Homo sapiens: one gene and its partner. The protein of the gene in region 2 purifies or fractionates together with the protein of the main gene of each other region. This does not show direct contact. Each region holds a gene or a part of one and is shown on either strand. Other genes may lie near its edges.

Region 1 (5,303 bases), on a different chromosome or scaffold from region 2:
AGAAAACTATCTAGACCAAAATCCTTATTCTAAGATGAGGAAACTGAGGCACAGAGAATGGAGATGACCTGCCCAGGTTCAGACCCTCAATAAGTAGCAGAAACAGATTTTAGGACCCAAATTTCCTGATTCTTCTTCTTTCACATATCCCATAATTATTTAAATGAATGAAGTTCTGCAAATATTCTCCTTAAAAACCAAGCACAGCACAAGAAGAAATAATGGAGTGGAGGGTCCAAACCAAAAGGTCCCATTTTCTCAGATTCTTCAGCACCACTGTGCTGACTGTCAAGGTCCCTGTTCTCTCTCTGGTTTCCAGAGACAGGAAGGGTTCCCTTCACAGCTCCTCATGAAGGATAAAGAAATCCTTCAACAAGTCACCCATTTCAGATTCTTGGGTTCCCGTCCATGCTCTTCCTTTTCCCACCCCACATCTCCACTTGTCAAAATCCCACACAGACTTTAAAACCAGCCTAAATGCTCTCCCTTTCAGGAACCCTTTCTTGATTCCTTTTTCCCAACATCCCCTCCAAAGATAAGTTATCTTTCCTTTTGTGAATGCCCAGCGCACATTTCTAACCTCTCTCATGATGCTTATAACTCTCTTCCTTATATTGTAACTATTTATTAATGTTTATCTTGTCTTTCCCATTAGTCCTTGAGGGAAAAGGCTATTCAGCCAACTTTGTGTTTTTGTTTTTTGTTTTTGTTTTTGTTTTTTGAGATGGAGCACCCAGGCTAGAGCGCAATGACGCGATCTCAGCTCACTACAACCTCTGCCTCCCAGGTTCAAACAATTCTTCTGCCTCAGCCTCCCGAGTAGCTGGGATTACAGGCGCCTGCCACCACACCCAGATAATTTTTGTACTTTTGGTAGAGACAGGGTTTTGCTGTTAGCCAAGCTGGTCTCAAACTCCTGACCTCAAGCAATCTGCCCACCTCAGCCTTCCAAAGTGCTGGAATTACAGGTGGAAGCACTGCACCCGGCCAGTGTTTAGCCAACTTTGGATCCGTCTACAGTTCCTTGAATAGATTAGGTGATCAATAAAAGTTTGTTGCATTGAGTTGGTACAGACAGTAACCTTCACCTTTCTATTGTAAATTCAGCCTACTTCTTCTTCAGTAGAGATGGAAGGTGGCTATGACCTATGGCTTCAGTGTCCACCTACTCATCCTATTTCTTCCCCTTCCCTCCAGGGGGAAAAAAATTACAGCCAGTGACTTCAAAGTGGGACCTTTATTCAAGACAGAGGTGAAATCTGTGCTGTAGTGAAAGTGCCATCGAAGGCACTGAGTAAGGGTCTAGAGCTCAGTGCACCACTCAGGCATCCCTGGAAAATAGTCTTCAAGAATTCGGTGATGTCACTACAGGGCCCAAGGCTCAGAGACAGATAAGCTTTGGGGGAACAGAAAGAAACAAACTGAGGTGGCATTAGGGAAGAGGTATTCCAGGAGTGTGGAGTGGGCAGGGGTGCCAAGGACAGCAGACACTCACAACTTCTCACAAAGCCACTGTTCCAGCTTCTCAGTGCAGAGGGCTTTATGGGCCAACCTGATAATGGAGAAGGGGGACAAGGTGAGTTAGCTGACTGAATCTTTACATTCATTCCCAGGAGGGCTGAAGTGGAAGAGCGTGGACGAGAATTACAGAAAGACATTCCTGGCCTGATGTCAAGCGACACAAGCCATCAAGTGGAATACAGTCCATAAAAAATATCCAAGAAAATTGTAGGGTTAAAAAAGAGATGCAATGTTACCAACAGCTTGCTTTAGGGCATAGAACTAAACAAGTGGAATTAGATGTCCAAGTCTAAGTGAAAGGAGGCCTGGGTCTGAGCCCTCCATTAGGCAACCCCTTATTAGGAAAATTGCTACCAAGGAGCGGAGCGAGAGAGGCTTAATAACAGAAACCTGAGTCTCTAGGTAAGCTTTGTTTCAGACACTGTATTCTAGATTAAATGACCAAGAGATAGGGTAAGAGGAAAGGGGTGCTGGGCTAATGGGGTAAGGAGAAGGAGGATGGGGAAATAGAAAATAGAATAAGGATTCACCAGTAGTCAATTCCTTTAATATCCAGGATCTTCTTGGCACACATTATGTCATCAGTAATGTCATCATCCAGGAACTCTGGCAGGAGTTACAGGGAAAGGATTGAGACAGCTGACAAGTATTACCCAGAAAGGCACTGAGTTCCCCTAACCCCTGGATCCAGTGGGTTCTCTAAACTCAAGGCTTGTGCCTGTTGTCTTTCTATATGAAAGGACCAATGTGGTAATGTCTAACCCTGGGTAGGGACTTCCTTCATTTCCCTGGGATATCTCTGGAGGAATCATCAGCTTCATCAACTGACTTACCCTGAAAATGCAGACAATCAGATTCCAAGACTCTCAGACAGCTCCGATTGTCTACCACTGAACCTCAAGGAACTGTCTGGGGATTTGATGACCATGAAAAATCCAAACAGCTTCTTACTCAGTACTGCCAATTCAAGTCCCACAATTTTTATAGAGCCCAGCCAAGGCAATGAAGCCTGAGGTCTGCTTGGCACTAAAAAGGAGATTATCCCAAGGGCAGGCCTCAGAAAAACAGAGAAAGAGGGTTATAGGGGCTACTCACTGTCACAGGAGATGTCACAGATGTTCCTTGACTGAGGGACCTGGCTGCTCTTGCACCAAAGCTTATTACTGATCTGGAAGAGTCCATATTCCGTGCTTTCATTGTTTTCAACTATGGCTTGTGTGTCATAACCACTGGTGTGAAACATGGTACAGATCACTGAGGGAAAGATGAGAAAGAGATACCACAGAGATGTACAGGATCTGCATAAAGGAGGAACTGTAATTCTCAGACAAAAATGCTTTCCAGCCAATCTCCAAAGATGGCAAAGCTCAGAGTTTCTTGATGAGATGGAGAATTCCAAAAAAAAATCAGACAATAAGAGAAAGAAAGGATAGGAAAATAAATGGGGCCAGGCATGATGGCTCACGCTTGTAATCCCAACACTTTGGGAGGCTGAGGAGGGCGGATCACCTGAGGTCAGAAGTTTGAGACCAGCCTGGCCAACATGGTGAAACCCTGTCTCTACAAAAAATACAAAATTAGCCAGGCATGGTGGTGGGTGCCTGTAATTCCAGCTACTTGGGAGGCTGAGGCAGGAGAATCACTTGAACCGAGGAGGCGGAGGTTGCAGTGAGCCGAGATTACACCATTGCACTCCAGTCTGGGCAACAAGAGCGAAACTCCACCTCAAAAATAAATAAATACATACATATATACATACATGAAATAAAAGAGTATGCAAATGAGCAGAAAAGAGGATGATTAGATAATTAAGTAAAAGTGGAGGGGCGAAGTGGAAGAAAGAGGGGATGGAGGAGAGAAGCGTATGAGGAATGGATGAAACACAGAGGCAGGGAACTCACATTCAGGCAAAGCGATGCCTCCATAACCATCTATGTCTTTCAGCAGCTGGGACAGCTCACATTTTGTGAATTGCTTGGCCAGGATGGCAGGGAACAGGATGCCCACCAGGAACAGAGGGACAAAGAACCTCATTTTGGCTACCCCCAAGAACCTGAAATGGAAGCATCACTCAGTTTCATTTATTTATATTCATGCAGAAAGCCTCAGGGGCTCTGGTACCAAGCCCTACATCTAGGAAGAGAATGAAGAGAGACTGGTCATGCCAAGACAGAAACGCTGAGCCTGCCAGCTTCCTTCCATAATTCACCCTACTTTTCCTTTCCCTCTCCCAGTATCTAGTCCATAGCAGGTATTGTTCTCTGGCCAGAAAGAGTTCAAACCATGATCCTGCTTCCCATTTGGCTTTGTTTAGCCCTTTGTTTCTTGTAGGGTTGGTTCTGGGAAGCACTGTCTCTGGTTACTTGAGGAACAAAGAAGGGCATGGGGGCAATATAAGAAGTGAGGCAATCAGAAAATACAATAAAGTTCTATACCGAGCTTCCCCCTTCCCCCCTAGAGACATGCAGAATGTGGAGAGGGGGTGTATGTCATCACATGCCACAGTCCCAGGATCAGAGCTGGCACTTGTCCAACCAATCCAGCCATGTAACAAGGCCCAGAATTAGTTCTTTAATATGGTAGCTCATGACTGAAGGCTCAGAAATAGGAATAGAATATGGGAACGTAGACTACAACAATCCGATATAACTTGGATCTTAAGACTTCCTACTTAAGGAAAATGCATAATTGAAAAGCCTGTATGAAAGCATCTAGGCCAGGCACAGTGGCTCACACCTGTAATCCCGGCATTTTGGGAGGCCGAGTCTGGTGGATCACTTGAGCCCAGGAGCTCGAGACCAGCCTGGGCAACATGGTAAAATCCCATCTCTACAAAAAAAATTAGCTGGGCATGGTGACATGTGCCTGTAGTCCCAGCTACTTGAGGGGCTGAGGCAGGAGGAACACTTGAGCACAGGAGGTCGAGGCTGCAGTGAGCCATGTTCACTCCACTGCACTCCATCCATCCTGGGAGACAAAGTGAGACCCTATCTTTAAAAAAAAAAAAAAAAAAAAAGAATCTAGCTATCCTACGAGCTATTATCAGATTCCCCACCCCTAACCACTCCTACCGTAAATAACCAAATACTACACTGGCATTGAGACATTACATAAATCTAAGACCAATAACTTGTAGACAACCTCAGAGTTGGCCACAGAAAGTGGGAAGGACCCAAGCCAGTGGAAAGATTGGACTTTAAGGCTGAACAAGCTTATGTCTGGAATCTCTATAAGGTCAGTGCCCCTGAGCAAGTAGAGTTGAGGATACTAGTTCTGAATAGCTCCTTTAATTTGCTGGCATGAAGCTTCATGTCATGGTGACAAGTAGCTCTTAGCTCCTTCATGCCACCATTCGTCTTCTTTGTCCTCATCTCTAAACCTGATTTCTTCTTCTTCTTCCTTTTTTTTTTTTTTTTTTGACCAAGTCTCACTCTGTTGCCCAGGCTGGAATGCAGTGGCGCGATCTTGGCTCACTGCAACCTCTGCCTCCCAGGCTCAAGTGATTCTCCTGCCTCAGCCTCCCGAGTAGCTGGGACTACAGGCACGTGTTACCATGCCCGGTTAATTTATGTATTTTTAGTAGAGACGGAGTTTCTGCATGTTGGCCAGGCTGGTCTCAAACTTCTGAGCTCAGGCAATTTGCCTGCCTGGGCCTCGGCCTCCCAAAGTGCTAGGATTACAGACAGGAGCCGCTGCGCTGTTTCTTATGTTTCAGGGAACATTTATCCCAACCAATCTATTTAAGACTTACATACTGAAGGTCTTCCATATCGTTATCTCCT
Region 2 (3,433 bases):
GTGGAAAATACCATTTCACCTGGCACTGAGGTAGGTCAGCTTTAAGGCACCCCATTCCCCCCAGCTCAGACTCACCAGAGAATCCAGCACCAATGACAATGTTGTCATACTTTGGGTGGCGATCGAGAATGAACTGCTCATCAGGGGTATTCTAGAAAGAAACAGTCACACCTTGTGTTCTTTGAGGCTCGAGGGAAGAGAAAGAACTGCAGGCTCTAACTGGAAGGGGATGGGCTGGATTTCTTTCCAGAAAGGATGGAATGAGGCACAAGGATGCTTTCCGCATGCCCGTGCCCCTCTGGGTGTGCCAGTCTTTTTCATTTGTCCGGCTGCCTTTCTTCTCGCACAGAGCTACGAACACAGTAGGTGTTCAGTTAATCTTTGTAAACTAACTTTAGCCAAGATGCCTTAGGCCGTGGTGACATCTGTCTCTTCTCTTTGTCCCTAAGGCCTGCTCAACTGGAGGAGCTTGCCAGAAAATCTTTTAGAGCTCTTCTGGGAATCAGAGTGAAGGACCGACTGCCAGGCATAACCTAGTTTCCTAATGAAGAAGAATAGGAATAATTTCGAACAGGACCCTCCCTGGTAGAGGTGAACCTACCCACAGAAATGAGCCCGTTTGTTTAAAGTCACACACTATGTCAGGGGTCAAACAATCGGGCCTGGCCAGTGCAAGGTCTGTCTCCTTCTTCCCTTCTGTAGAGTGGTGAGGGGGCCCAGCAAGGCTGCCCAGACCCCTTACCGTGTACATGCAGCTCTCAATGACAGCAGGCTCGGGCTTCAGATCAGGTAAGTGATCTCTGACAAAGCTGCTCAGGATCTGGACGTCTCCGATGTCTGTGCGTGCTGTGGGGCAGTCCCGCTCCTCAGGGTCTGCGTGGTTGCCGTGGTGATAGCTGACCTGGCTCCCAATCAGAGTGGCATGAGTGGTGAGGGCTGGCCTTCCACACACACCCACAGCCGAAGGGCAGGCGTGTACACAGGACAGCCCCATCCATCATTCCAGCCTTCCCCACTCCTGGCAGGTGCTGTGGGCTGTCACCTGAGGCTGCTTAGCTGTTGGTCCCTGCAACCACCCTATGTTTGCAAAGGAAGGGCTCCTTTTGCTGGGCCTCAGGGCAGCTGAGGGTCTTTCCTTGCAAATCGCCATGAGTGAAGCAGGCTCCTGCTGCTGGCCCCGAGACCCAAGGGCATCTATGGAGGGGAAAGTTAGAGCAGCTTCCCCTAATCTGCACTGGCATCTACCTGCCTTATCTCGGTCTTTCCGCTCACCTTCATCAGCCCTGGGTACTCTCCTGTGGGCAGTCCGTAGATGTGGTGGGGACACAAGCCCAGCCACAGGAAGCACGGAAAGGCCTGGGACACACCATAGCTCCCAGGAACCATCTCTCGCCAGTAACACACGTTGATCCGCAGGGTCTTGAGGCAGGGAGAGGAAGTGGGAAATGAAGAAAAGCCATGGAACTCTACAGCAATGAAAGCAGTTTCTCTGGGCCCCTGCGGCCCTCTAACACAAGCCTGGACACCCAGTTGAACTCATCCATGTTTGTCTCTCCCACTTCTCATGTTGTTTACCTGTTACATGTGTTATGATGCACAAACATCTCTGAGCCTCTGTCTCTTCTCCCATTCTTAGTTTTCTCCCATAACTACACCCAGCCCCCAGCCATATTTCTGTCTCTTTTCGGGAATTAATAAGACCTCAGGTTTATTGAGTGCTTACTATAAGCCAGGTTATGTCCTAAGGGCTTTATTTTTATTTTATTTTATTTTATTTTATTGAGACAGGGTCTTGCTCTGTCACCCAGACTGGAATGCAGTGGTAGAATCACGACTCATTGCAGCCTCAACCTCCTGGGCTCAGGCCAGCCTCCTGGGCTCAGCCTCCCAAGTAGCTGGGACTACAAGCACACGCCACTACACCTGGCTAATTTTTCTTAGTTTTTGTAGAAACAGGGTCTCGCCATATTGCCCAGGCTGGTCTTGAACTCCTGGGCTCAAGAAATTCTCCTGCTTTGGTCTTCCAGAGTGCTGGAATTACAGGTGTCAGCCACCACATCCGGCCTCTTAAAGGCTTTATATACAGCATATATTAGGTTAGTGCAAAAGTAATTGTGGTTTTTGCCATGACTTTGAACGGTAAAACTGCAATTACTTTTGCACCAGCCTAATAATTTAATTCTCCAACAGCCCTATGAGGTAGCTATCATCCCCCATATTACAGATGATAAAACTGAGGCTCGGTGAGGTGAATGAATGTGCCCAAGGTTGTCCACTAGCAAGAGGCAGATCCAGGACTCAAATTTGACTCCATCTGGTTCCAAGGCTTCTCTTGAGCACCAACTCTCGGGCTTCCAGCTCCTCTTACCTGGAGAGGCATCTCAATGCCCAGGGGACGGAGGAGCTGGTTGGTCCAAGGACCTGCTGTGATGACCAAGCTCTTAGCTTGGTAGCTCCTGGAGGTGGTTTTCACCGTGACCAGTAGCCCTGGGTTTATCTCCACCACCTTCTCTCCGTCACGCACTATGCCTCCTAGCTGTCGAATTGCATCCTGAAAGGGCAGGAGCAGGGAAAGGTGAATTAGTTCTGTATGTGGTTCACCCTGGTGGACAGAAAGCCTTTTGCCTGGGGCAGAAAAGAGTGCAGAATCTAGACCTGTCCTGTATTGACAAGGCCAGCCGCATATATTTCACTGCCCTGCTGGAAAAGTCAAGACTAAAGCCTGCAGGGCAAAGGCCTCATCCAGAGGGGGGTCTTGGGCTGGCTGCTTGGGACCCAGGACACCCAGAGCAGGGAGCACCTGCATCGCCCCAGTGCTATACGACATTACCTGCAGGGCTCTGAGGGCCTTATATGCATAGATAACTCCTCCGGAATTGTCCAAGAGCCCCACTTCTCCCCTGGGCAACCGAATATTTGGGAAACGTTGCTTCAGTTCCTCAGATGAAAGACACTGGTGTTCTACCCTCTGCCTCGACAGATTGGCCTGGATTGTCTTTAATTCTTGATTCTCTTTCATTCCCAGCAGCAGTAATCCAGTCTGCCTGTTAAAAAATAAGTCACCTAGGTGAAGGTGTGTTTCAAAATCCTGGGCCTGATGTGACGACTCACGCCTGTAATCCCAGCACTTCAGGAGGCTGAGGCAGGAGGATGACTTGAGGCCACTAATTTGTTCACTAGCAGCCTGGGCAATATCATGAGACCCTGTCTCTGCAAAAAGTAAAAAATTTTTAAAAAGTAGCCAAGCATGGTGTCACATGCCTGTGATCCCAGCTATTTGGGAGGCTGAGGTGAGAGGATCACTTTAGCCAGGGAGGTCAGGGTTGCAGTGAGCCATGATTGCACCACTGCACTCCAGCCTGGATGAGAGAGCAAGCCCCTGTCTCAAAGCAAAACAAAGCAAAGCCCTGGGCCATTTGCTCTCCTTCAGGAG

Evidence for each region. Proteins that work in one complex are often made in the same cells at the same time.
Region 1: the proteins of PIPOX (region 2) and LALBA purify together in Homo sapiens (affinity purification with mass spectrometry; one large-scale study listed by BioGRID and IntAct). This does not show direct contact.

What each region holds. Positions count from the first base shown.
Region 1 is NC_000012.12:48,566,466-48,571,768, forward strand, and holds LALBA (alpha-lactalbumin precursor), read right to left. Parts: upstream 3,582-5,303; 5' UTR 3,556-3,581; coding exon 3,423-3,555; intron 2,776-3,422; coding exon 2,617-2,775; intron 2,128-2,616; coding exon 2,052-2,127; intron 1,553-2,051; coding exon 1,492-1,552; 3' UTR 1,219-1,491; downstream 1-1,218. UniProt on the Homo sapiens protein: Regulatory subunit of lactose synthase, changes the substrate specificity of galactosyltransferase in the mammary gland making glucose a good acceptor substrate for this enzyme. This enables LS to synthesize lactose, the major carbohydrate component of milk.
Region 2 is NC_000017.11:29,052,531-29,055,963, reverse strand, and holds part of PIPOX (peroxisomal sarcosine oxidase), read right to left. Parts: intron 3,045-3,433; coding exon 2,831-3,044; intron 2,552-2,830; coding exon 2,369-2,551; intron 1,420-2,368; coding exon 1,273-1,419; intron 902-1,272; coding exon 743-901; intron 152-742; coding exon 76-151; intron 1-75. UniProt on the Homo sapiens protein: Metabolizes sarcosine and L-pipecolic acid.